Linked DNA regions of Homo sapiens. Each later gene encodes a partner of the first gene's protein in a complex. Each region holds a gene or a part of one and is shown on either strand. Other genes may lie near its edges.

Region 1 (7,288 bases):
TACAAACATTAGTTGGGTGTGGTGGGGTGCCCCTGTAGTCCCAGCTACTTGCGAGGCTGAAGTGGGAGGATCACTTGAGCCTACGGAGGTTGAGGCTGGAGTGAGCTGTGATTGCACTACTGTACTCCAGCCTGGGTGACAGAGTAAGACCCTGTCTCCAAAAAGAAAAAAGAAAAGAAAACAAAAAACACACAGGGGAGGATGGAAGTCCTTGGGAGGAATAGGAGCAACCAGAAAGTTTGTTTAGGTCCTGGGTTCTTCTGTCTCCAGAAAGGACGTACCCGGGCTGTAAGGCAGGAGCTGAGAGGATGGTATCTGAGCACTAGGGCCTTTGTTACCTGTAATTGGAGACAGAGAGAGCAATTGGGGAATGACACTCAAACCCGAGAACCCTGAGACATAGATGTTTATGGTTTAGGGTCAAACAGGGACATTTTATTTAACCAGACATAATTGCCTCTCTGGCTAACCAGACTCCACTCCAACTCCTTACCCAGAGAAGAAGAGTGAAGGCCTGACTACGACAGGGCCCAGAGCCCAGGCCAGCCTCCACTTTGTCCACAGCTAGCTGTAGGAATTCATCCAGCTGCTGCCCTAAAAAGGAGAGAGGAAATGCTGACATAAAGGCTACACATTTTCCCTTTAGCAATGAAATGCAAATCACTTTAAGTGCAGAGCTCCCTGAGAAGCTGTTAGAAAGGGAAAATATCATTTTTGCCTGTGGACAAAATGATTGGACACCTGCATAAGAGCCTGGTATTCTCATAATACAGAGGTGCTGCCATTTGAAAAGAGAGGGTCATCTACTTCCAATAAAGAATTATCCACACTAGCCCCACTGTAGGGAGTAGGACGGCAGAACTAGACTCTTTGTGCTCCCTTCTCTTCTTAGGTACTATAAAGCTCTGCCCAACTGTGGTCTTGACGCTTTTCCCACGGGCAGTCCCAGGACAGTGCTTGAGCAGTTGAAGCCCTGTTAATGTTATTAGCAAGCTCCTTTTAAAAAGAGAATGAGTACTGAGCTATAAGATTTCATGGGTAGTTGATTCTGGGAGGCTCCTTACATAGTCTGATCTCAGTACCTGCAGGGTGCTTGTTGAGGAGTCCTGCAAAGCACTTGGCAGCAGCGGTGGAAGAAAAGGGGCAGCTGTGGCAGCAGCTCAGTTCCAAAAGCTCCCGCATGAGTTGGTTCAGCTGAGGGATTTCCACCTACAGAAAACCTGGCCATGTAATGGACCCAGAGAACACTTGAACTCCAAGAGAACCAGTACATAGTGGCAGCAGGGACCGGGACGGATGAGAACTAACTTCTCTGGTGGGGGAAGTAAAAGATCAGCTTAGCCTGTGGCAAATTTCAGCCCGGAGTCACCTTGTCAAGGTTAAATAACAGTACTTCCCAAATGTGCTCACTTACATTTCGAGGCAGGGAGCAGACAAAGGCCATAAGCAGTGCAATCAGCCGCCTCTGCCCTGAGGAGCCATCCTATAAAGGAAGGAGAGCCCGATCAAGCCTGCCAGCAATAAGCTTGTCTGCCCCTCTACCCATTCCAGATTAGCCCTAAAAAAAAACCAGCTTGAAGGATGTAAGTTCTAAGACTGTTACCTGGAATGGCTGGAATCTGCTCGGGAAGCTGTTTTCAGGCAGAAAGGACACGTTGCCATCCAAGAAGAGGGGCACAATGTGTGTCACACTCTGGGCAGCTAACCTGGGGGCAGAGTACTAGGTATGACCAAGGAGCTAGGATTCTAAAGCAGCCCTCTCCTCCACAGACGTGCTTTTCAACCTAGGGTTTGAATTAGGATCACCACGTCAATGGGACATGCCCTGATCATTCATGCATTGAACAAATATTAATTTGGCACATATGTGCCAGTAATCATTTCCATTCAGGTTCCCATCTGGGAAGTCAAGGTATATTTTAAAATGCTCTACAGGTAATTCTTAAGCACATCTGCGGCTAAGAACCACTGGCCCTGGCTTCCCACCCTCATAGTCCATGGTGCTAAGAGCCCCTTCCTTTTGTTTTGTCAACAAAACTTACAAGACGATTAACTGCACCACATTTACATATAGGTAAAAGGACAGCTGACAAGGCAGCTACCTGTTGCTTCTTCCTAAGAATGCTATCCTTCTCCCTGGGTTCAAGCCACATCCATGATTATACTTACTCAGGGCTCAGGTGGGTTGTAGCAGTGCCAATGACAGACACCATGGCAGCCAACACCTCATCCTCCAATAGTACTTTTCTCAGAACTGAGGGCTCCTTCTCTGCAAAACACACACACATGCACACAATCACAAGACCATGACGGGTTCAAGAAATGAATGATTGGGTTCTGTCAGCATCACTGACTCTGGGGCTTGACTCTAGCCACGACAGCAGTTCTTAATCTGGTCTCTGGTAGTGCTATAGTCCTGAGAATCAGGGCACCAGAAACAGGAGTGGTCTGACCTGGGGCCACAGAGCGCTCCTGAGAACTCTGCACAGTCTTTAGACTAGGCCAACAGTGGGAAAGAGGGATAGCTAAGATGAACATTCTTAACATAAGAAATAGAAATGTTGTCCCTGGTGTCCCTGGAGATGCAAGGAAAAAAAAATAGTAATGTTGGTCTCTGAAAAAATTAAAAACATAGATTTATCTTCATGGGTCCTTATTATTTATAGCAACTATCATACACTGAGTACTTCCTATGTGGCAGGTACTATACACTAACTTATTTAATCCTTACCAACTACCCTGTGAAACAGTTTTTTTTTTTTTTTTTTTTGAGACAGGAACAGGATCTCGCTCTGTCACCCAGGCTCGAGTGCAGAGGCACAATCATGCCTCACTGCAGCCTTGAACTCCTGGGCTCAGGTGATCCTCCCACCTCAGCCTCTTGAGCAGCTGGGACTATAGGTGTGCACCACTATGTCTGACTATTTGTAGAAACAGGGTCCCCTGTGTTGCCCAGGCTGGTCTCAAACTCCTGGACTCAAGTGATCCTCCCATCTTGGCCTCCTGAAGTGCTGGGATTACAGGTGTGAACCATGGCGCCAGCCTAGACGGTACTCTTTATCTCCATCTTACAAGTGAGGAAATTGAAGCGTGGAAAGGCTGAATATCTTCACCTAAGTTAGCAAGTGGTAGAGTTGAGGATAAAACCCAACCAGGTGGGCTTGACTCCAGAGTCCAATTCTAAGTAAACTAATCACATAGCACTTCATGGGGAAAAGGTGTGCATTCTTTTGAATGTTGCTAACACTAGTGGATTTTGGTTCCTGCCACTGGTCAGGGTGGCACCCTTTGCTATGAAGTGAAATCTCACTCTGAGGACAAAGGATTGAAAATAAACCTCTGATGGTACAAAATACAGTACCACCAATACCCAGAGGGTGGTGCTGTTCAACACCAGCAGAGGGCAAAGTTCCCAAAGGCCAGGAAGGAGAGGTGGAAAGTTACCTGGCATAGAGGCCTGCACAGCCAAGGCAAGCAGGCAAGGTATAGCTGTCTGGTGGAAATACCAGCAACTCTCAGGGTCCTGCTGACATTTTTCTGCCATCTGTCTGAGGCTCTGACAGACAGCAATAACGTCACTGGATTGTGCAACCATATTCCCTGTTGATGAGAAAGTGTTCTCTGTAAGGTTTGCTTAAAAGCACTTTCAGGTGTTTCCAATTACACAGCAGATGAGAGGAACAAAGAAGAGTGACTGAAGGGACCAAGAGTGCCTTATTAAAAAGCTGAGTCACTTTATTCTCCTGGCTGTTCTTTCTGATCTATTCAGACTTCATAGTTGAGACTTGCTCTGTCCCAGGCTCTGCAGCAGAAGCACTTGTATATATTCTCTCCTTATTTTTCATAACAACCTTAGAAGTATCATTTCCCTCACTCTATAGAGAAGGACATGGAGGCACAATGAAATACATGATCAGTGGCTTTTCCAGGGTCACAGGAAGTGCAAAGTCAGGAATCAAGCCCAAGTTATAATCCAAGTCTAGTATTCATTCTACTATGTAACAGCTGCTGGATCAACCACAGTGGGCCTGAATCTACCCACAGGGCAGGCTGCTGTCACTTTTGCATTGGAGCAGTGCTTCTCAAACTCAACAGTCTACGAGTTACCAGGGTACACTGTCAAAATGCAGATTCTGATCAGTGAGGGCCTGAGATTCTGCACTTCTAACAAGCTCCCAGATGTCACCCATGCTGCTGGTTAACAGACCATCTTTTGAGCACCACGGCCTTAGGGTGATGCCTCTCAATTCAGATCCCACATGAAAATTACCTAGGTAATTTTTTTTTTTTTTTTTGGAGACAGGGCTTCACTCCTGTTGCCCAGGTCAGGCTGGAGTGCAATGGAGCGATCTCGGCTTGCTCCAACCTCTGCCTCCCGGGCTCAAAGTGATTCTCCTGCCTTAGCCTCCCAAGTAGCTGGGACTACAGGTGCATGCCACTGCTCCTGGCTAATTTTTGTATTTTTTGTAGAGATGCGGTTTCGCCATGTTGCATCGGCTGGTTAGGTCTCAAACTCTTGAGCTCAAGTGATCCATCAGCCTTGGCCTCCCAAAGTGCTGGGATTACAGGCATGAGCCACCACACCCAGCCCGGCACTTTTTTTTTTCTTTTTTGAGATGGAGTTTCACCCTGTTTGCCCAGGTGTGAGTGCAATGGCATGATCTTGGCTCACTGCAACCTCCGCCTCCCAGGTTCAAACGATTATCCTGCCTCAGCCTCCTGAGTAGCTGGGATTACAGGCGCCTGCCACCATGACCAGATAATTTTTAGTAGAGACGGGATTGCACCATGTTGGTCAGGCTGGTCTCAAACTCCTGACCTTGTGATCCACCCGCCTCAGCCTCCCAAAGTGCTGGGATTATAGGCATGTGCCACTGCGCCCAACCCTTTTTTTCTTTTGAGATAGAGTTTCACTCTATTGCCCAGGCTGGCCAGGCTGGAGTACAGTGGCGCAATCTCAGCTCGCTGCAACCTCCGCCTTGTGGGTTCAAGAGATTCTCCTGCCTCAGCCTCCCCAGTAGCTGGGATTACAGGCGCATGCCACCATGCCCAGCTAATTTTTTGTATTTTTAGTAGAGACTGGGTTTCTCCATGTTGGCTAAGTTGGTCTCAAATTCCTGACCTCAAGTGATCTGCTGGCCTCGGCCTCCCAAAGTGCTGAGATTACAGGCAAGAGCAGCGGCCCTGGCCGGGTACTCTTAATAGTACTGTTGCCTAAGTCCCATCCCTCCTCAGAGACTGATTCAGTTGGACGCAGGCATCAGTATTTTTTTTTTCTTTTAAAAGAGTTGATTCTGTTACTCTTATGTATAGCTACAGCTAGAACCACTGCCTTAGAGACTACAGCTCCCTATTCAGCCCAGTCCGTTGGTGGTTATTCCTAGTAGTTACCTCTGTTCACTTGCCAGAGATGCTGCAGCAGCAGAGGCAGTGTCTCCTTGACGATGCTGGGATGTGTTGATACAGCTGACAAGGCTTGCAGACAGCACAGATGCCGGGAGCATTGGGTGGGCTCATCTCCGTTAGTCAAATTTGACTCCCCTGAAAGCAACCCATGAGACAAAGGTTTACTGTGTGATAGGAAGCACGAAGGCCCCAAAGCCTTGCTGGAAAGGGATGGGCCACAGAGGATTAGAGACACATACCTACACGCAGCTCCTCAGCGAGCTTGGGTACGAGGTGGCTGCTGAAGGCCACAGGGTAGAGAGCAGCCAGGGTTCCTGATGCTTCCAGTGCTGCCACCCTGCTGGAGGCGCAGAGCAGATAAGCATTGGCTGAGCCTGGGCTCACAGCTCTCTTGCCTACGTCTGATATTAGGCAGATTCAGGAGTGTGAGCTCCCAACGCCTCCTTGCTAAAGAGCAGAACTCAAGTACCTACACCACTGAGTTGGACAGGGCTTCTTAAAGCCTAAGAAGAGAGCAGTCCTACATCTCTCCAACTGGTTAGCAGCCAGAGTCTAACACAGAGCTCACCTCCCCTAAGGAGAGCCAAGGGTCAGAAGCACAGAGCCCTGGTCCTAGCTTGATCTTTTGCTGCCAATACAGAGGCAGGGAACAGCTTGCTCTATCTCATTGCTTTAAATTCTCACCAACTCTGGGAATCCTCCTTCAGGAAGCTCAGTCTGTACAGGTGACCCACTGCCAGCTCCAAGTCCTCATAAGATAGGAGATCTGTAGTTAGAAGGGAACATGAATCTCATCTTTCTTCCCCTGCAGCCATCACAACCCTTCTAAGCTCTTATTAGAAATCCCAAATCATCCAGAGTTGCAGTAAGAAGAGGATAGTAAGGCTGCTTTTCACCAAGGCAGTCTTACAAGAAAAGGACCAATATTTTCCTCTTCTCTTTCCCTTAAGATGTACCTGGCTGGGCACCCAAGACTGTCAGTGTACGGATGCCAACAAGCTGAAGCTGGGTGCTGGGGTCTGTTAGAGCCATGAATACCAGTGAGCACAGCTGGTCCTTGAAGCCATTCAGAGGCCTTTGATCTAGGGAAGAGACAGAGGCCAGGTTAGAAGGAAGCCACTGCATTCCATATCCCTGACTAAGCTGTGATACACAGCCAACCTGGGGTAGATTTTTTTTTTGAGACAAGGCCTCTGTTGCCCAGGCTGGAGTGCAGTGGCGTAATCTCGGATCACTGCAGCCTCTGCCTCCCAGGTTCAAGCCATTCTCCTGCCTCAGCCTCCCGAGTAGCTGGAATTACAGGCATGTGCCAACAGGCCTGGCTAATTTTTGTATTTTTAGTAGAGACAGGGTTTCACCATATTGGCCAGGCTGGTCTCGAACTCCTAACCTCAAGTTTTCCGCCTGCCTTAGCCTACCAAAGTGCTGGGATTATAGGTGTGAGCCACCATGCCCCGCCTCCTGGGGCAGATTTAAAGAGCTTAATCCATTGGGTATCCAGAAAGCACACTGAGAAAAATAAACAGATCTCATCCATCTCATCTGTTAAGTGTTCTCTTGTGCTACAACCTCAGAATAGGACCACTGTTCTAGACTACTTTTCCACAGCACTCTTTGCCCTGCTATCCTTTATAGGCTGAAGTGTTCAACAGTCCCCAGAGCACTGCAATGGAAGGCAACCTCACCTTTGTCTTCATAGCTCCATTTCTGCTGCAGCTTCAAGAAACCCAGGAGCATTTCAAGGATTGTCCGCCGCTGGCTGCTCTGTAACGTTTCAAGGGGTACTAGAGTCAAAGAATATTTTAAAGGATTTCAATCCTGCTACTCTGGATATAGGGAAAATTCTTTCTTTCTTCCAAGAGATGGGGGTTTTGCTATGCCA
Region 2 (5,062 bases), on another chromosome or scaffold:
GAGTGTGGGAGCTGAGGTGGGAGGATCACCTGAGCCCAGGAAGTCGAGGCTGTAGTGAGACATGATCGCGCCACTGCACTCCAGCCTAGGCGACAGAGTAAGACCTGTCTCAAAAAAAAAAAAAAAAAAAAGATTGGACTAGATGACCTTTAAGGTCCCTTTTAACTATAATAAGTTATGATTTTTCTCACTCATGAGAAATGTTTATCTCCGTAGTAAATAAGTAAATAAAAATTAGTTCATATGTTCCAGTGTTCTCTGGAAAGTAGACGTCTTTATTACAGCATACTCTCTTTACCACAGGATTTGCAATAATTTTGTAGGTTGTCTTAAAAGCTCTGGGTCTTGGAGGGTAGCTCATGTCTATAGGTGCAGCAGGGCCAGGAGGGATAGCTTAACCAGTATTATACTTGAGAATAAATTTAGCATGATAATAATGAATGAGAAAAGAAGGATGCTGAAAACTATATTGTGATCCCATTTTTGTAAAACAAGCAATGTGAAGAAACTTCCAACCCTGATATGTGGGTGTGTGTGTGTGTAAAATCTGTGTAAGATTATGTGGGTAAAGAGAAGAATATGGAAGAAACCACACTAGATTGTTATTGTAGATTTCCTGAGTCAGTAGCAGGGCAGGAGGAAGTTTAGATACCGAGTTGGGAAGAAGTAGAGTGCAGAAAAGAGATATTCTTAAGTAAAACCACACATATGAGATCTCATTTGTGTAAAATGATATTTTTGTGTATTCATAAAAAAATTAATGGAAATACCACCTGCAGGCCTTTTCCAGGTGAACAAAATAAAAAATCCTACTCATTTCAGTCCTTTTTTTTTTTAGAGAAGGATGTGGGGGATTTGTCCCTATGTCTCTGATGTTAGAAACAGGATTTGGGGGGCGCTGGGCGCAGTGGCTCACGCCTGTAATCCCAACACTTTGGGAAGCCGAGGCGGATCACCTGAGGTCAGGAGTTTGAGACCAGTCTGGCCAACATGGCGAAACCCCATCTCTACTAAAAAAAAAAAATAATAATACAAAACTTAGCTGGGTGTGGTGGCGTCTGCCTGTAATTCCAGCTATTGGGAGGCTGAGGTAGGAGAATTGCTTGAACCCAGGAGGCGGAGGTTGCAGTGAGCCGAGATCATGCCACTGCACTCCAGCCTGGGCAACAGGGTGAGACTCCATCTCAAAAAAAAAAAAAAAGAAACAGGATTTGGGCACTCATCCCTAGATGTTTGAATTTACTGTACATTCCACTTCACTCTCTTATCTTAGAATGCATTAATGTTTTTTCTTTTACTTTTTTTCCCACTTTCCAGTTGGAAATCTACATTTCTGAAGGAACCCACTCAACAGAAGAAGACAGTAAGTGAATGTTGAAACATAATTGAAAAACAACTTCAGATAGTATTTTATCTTGGATACTGGATTCTTCTGCCAGCCAAGAATCTACTGGGTTACTTTCAAAAAAGTGCACAATTGGTTATTGGCTCTTCCTTCCTAGGTGAGGAAACCTAGGCATTTCAAAGAAGTAATTTTTGCAGTGGACTCCGAGTGCACTAGAGCCCACGGATGTTGACTGGTTTAGGCCAGTGGCTACACATCTGTAAAGAATATCCAGTGCTGGGGACCTTGACTTATGAGCTCTAAGTAGGCTTCTTTTCTTTGGTGACAGGATAGAGAGCTGTGTACTTGAAATTGAAGGTCTAGCAAGTAGAGCTTTAGTGAATCTTGGGGTAGGTGCTGTCTCTCTGGGTTAGTATATTAGAATGGGAGTGGGGAACCTTTTTTATATAGAGGACCTCTGGCCTACAGAGAGAAATCAATCAGTAGCTACTTAAAAATAGCAGAAGTGGGGTTTGGGAAAAGCAAAAAACAAAATGTTCTGTATGATCCCTGTGTTACATTAAAAACATAATTTTAATGTTTTTAATCTACAAATGATAGAGTGCAAATAATGAGAAATACATTTAAAAGGCATGTTGTACTTAAGTTTCATCACTAAGTAAATTGAGAAGGTGGGAAAAAATAGCAGAGGAATGGAAGAAAGAGCTAATAGAGGAAGAGCAACAGTGAGATAGATACCAAGAAGACTCAGAAAGGCATACACAGGGCTGGAGAGAGACACACAAAATCTCCTACATAAAAGAGAGCTATAGAGAGGGAAGCCTGCTGCTTCCAGAGGAACAGCCTATCCAGGAAACTTTTTAGGTACTGTCATGAAAACTGTTAAAAACCATGCCCTATTTATAGTTCTAGACATGTAGATTATTATACTCTTTGTGGGCTGAATTTCTTTAAACCCCACGAGCTGAGGGCTTCTACCTGTAATTTAGAAAAATAAGAGTTTAGGTACCCTAAATCCACTCAGGTTATCGTTTTGAAATTCCTTGAATGATAGGATTTTACAGCAGCAATAGTATTAAGTCTTATGAGTCTTGTTTTTCATTTAGTAAGTATTTATTAAGTGCCTTCTATGTGTGGGTACAGTTCAGCCTTTGAGATACATTCCTGCCTTTGTGGAGCCTACATTGTAGTAGGAAGAAACCAAATTGAAAGTATTTTCGCAGGAATATGTGTATGTTTGTGTGTCTTCTACATGAGACATTTCAGCGGCAGCCCAGAAAACTCAATCCACATTAAGAATATAGTCGTCTCTCTTTTGAACTCTTCTATTAAGAATGCTGTTAGCTAATTACAGAAAACATAATGGGCCAATACCTTTATTATATGAAGATCCATTCAAACTAATTTTAAAAAAAGATCTAGTAGATTAATAGAGACATGAACAGGAAATTCATGCAAGAAGAACTAATATATGCACATGGAAAATGTTCTATTTTCCTATTAGTCAAGGAAATGCAAATTATGACAATAATATTGAGCCGTTTTCCATCTCCTGTTTTATGTATGTATATATGTGTATTTGTTTTTATTAAATAATACCAGCTATTGCCCGGGCATGGTGGTTCACACCTGTAACCCTAGCACTTTGGGAGGCCAAGGCGAGAGAATGCCTTGAGGGAAGGAGTTTGAGGCCAGGATTTCAAGACTAGCCTGGGCAACATGGTGAGACCCTGTCTCTACGAAAATATTTGAAAATTAGCCAGGTGTGGTGGTTCATGCCTGTGGGAGGCTGAGGTAGGAGGATCTCTTGAGCCCAGGAGTTGGAGGTTACAGTGAGCTATGATTGCACCACTGCACTCCAGCCTGGATGACAGAGCAGGACCCTGTCTCAAAGAATAATAATAACAATGATAATAATACCAGGTATTGTTGCCAAACTGATAGCTCATGTATTGGTGTTGACAATATAAACTGGTGAGTAATTTTAGGAAGTAAATCAATGATATGAATCACACCATAAAAATATTCATACTCTTAAAAATAATCCCATTTTTGAGAATATTTCCAAAAAGAAGGCTATATGTTTAAAGGTATTCATTGTAGCATAGTCTTCATAATTACTTTAGAACACTTAAGACTTTTACCATGTTAAATAACCCTGTAGTTTAAAATATAGGCTTATGGGGGAAAAAATAGCAATTTTCAAAATTATATTTACTCTGAATGTAACTGTATAAAAATATGTGTATGGACAAAGACTGGAAAGAAAAAAATAGATGTGGTTAAGTAGTAGAATTCTAGTAGATATTTTTCTCTTAAGTCTGCCTTCTAGATGGGAAATTACATTATGAGTAATTAGCCAAAAACAGGTTTAAGTTCTCAAGGAGTTAAAGTTTTTGTTTCAGCAGGCTAATAAAAATACTGTCTGGTGCTGTATATTGACACAGTTCTTCTGCTAACTTTTGTCTGTGTATTTTTCAGTCAATAAGCAGATAAATGACAAAGAGCGAGTGGCAGCTGCAATGGAAAACCCCAACTTACGGGAAATTGTGGAACAGTGTGTCCTTGAACCTGACTGATAGCTGTTTTAAGAGCCACTGGCCTGTAATTGTTTGATATATTTGTTTAAACTCTTTGTATAATGTCAGAGACTCATGTTTAATACATAGGTGATTTGTACCTCAGAGTATTTTTTAAAGGATTCTTTCCAAGCGAGATTTAATTATAAGGTAGTACCTAATTTGTTCAATGTATAACATTCTCAGGATTTGTAACACTTAAATGATCAGACAGAATAATATTTTCTAGTTATTATGTGCAAGATGAGTTGCTATTTTTCTGATGCTCATTCTGATACAACTATTTTTCGTGTCAAATATCTACTGTGCCCAAATGTACTCAATTTAAATCATTACTCTGTAAAATAAATAAGCAGATGATTCTTATAATGACTCACTGTTTTTATTGAATTGTAAATTCCAGTGTAAATGTCAACTCCTAAAGGATATCTTCAAAGCTTTATTTTTGCTGATTATTTTGTAGAATCAGAGATCTGAGAACCAAAAGGAACCCTTAAGATTGGGCCTTCCTTCCTTCCAAGGAGAGTCCTGGACCCTTTCATAGATAAGGAACAAATGTGGAGAAGGCTAGATGGCATACACAATTTTGAAGATCAAGAAGTCCACCAAAGAAGTTTTGATTAAACCAACCTAAATGTATGGTCCGCACTTTATCTGTCCTTCATTTGGTTTGTTTTAGGGGTTAATGGTCATGTGAAGTATAGTAGCCTCCAACATGGCCCCCAAGATCCTCACTTCCTGGTATTCATGCCCTTGTATAGTTAACTTCCATATTGAATTGGAGCTGATGGGTGTGGCTAATAAAGAATGGCAGAGTGACAATGGGTGACTTCTGAGGCTAGATCATAAAAGGTATTGCTGTTTTCACCTTAGGCTCTTGGATTGCTTATTCTGTAGGAATCCAGCTGCTATGTCACGAGAACTCAAGCCACCCTGTGGAGAATTCCACACGGAGTGCAGCTGAGGCCTCCCAACAACAACCAGCAGCAATTTGCAAACCATGTGAGTGAACTCCTGATGCAGAACTGCCTAGCTCCCAAAGTCTGGACCCAGGCACTGTCTTGGGTGCCAAGGACACAAAGATACATCAGCCATTGTCTGTCCTCCTGGAGTTCATACTTATTAGCCTGGACCTTCA

What was found.
Region 2: MMS19 (region 1) and CIAO2A share a complex: the UniProt entries of both Homo sapiens proteins name them as parts of the CIA complex.

Annotation. Positions count from the first base shown.
Region 1 is NC_000010.11:97,460,414-97,467,701, forward strand, and holds part of MMS19 (MMS19 nucleotide excision repair protein homolog), read right to left. Parts: intron 7,191-7,288; exon of another isoform or gene 7,171-7,190; coding exon 7,092-7,170; intron 6,489-7,091; coding exon 6,363-6,488; intron 6,173-6,362; coding exon 6,091-6,172; intron 5,747-6,090; coding exon 5,646-5,746; intron 5,542-5,645; coding exon 5,392-5,541; intron 3,601-5,391; coding exon 3,445-3,600; intron 2,270-3,444; coding exon 2,170-2,269; intron 1,707-2,169; coding exon 1,604-1,706; intron 1,484-1,603; coding exon 1,415-1,483; intron 1,210-1,414; coding exon 1,083-1,209; intron 595-1,082; coding exon 494-594; exon of another isoform or gene 407-493; intron 339-406; coding exon 282-338; intron 1-281. UniProt on the Homo sapiens protein: Key component of the cytosolic iron-sulfur protein assembly (CIA) complex, a multiprotein complex that mediates the incorporation of iron-sulfur cluster into apoproteins specifically involved in DNA metabolism and genomic integrity.
Region 2 is NC_000015.10:64,071,793-64,076,854, reverse strand, and holds the end of CIAO2A (cytosolic iron-sulfur assembly component 2A), read left to right. Parts: intron 1-1,317; coding exon 1,318-1,363; exon of another isoform or gene 1,364-3,826; coding exon 3,827-3,924; 3' UTR 3,925-4,290; downstream 4,291-5,062. UniProt on the Homo sapiens protein: Component of the cytosolic iron-sulfur protein assembly (CIA) complex, a multiprotein complex that mediates the incorporation of iron-sulfur cluster into extramitochondrial Fe/S proteins.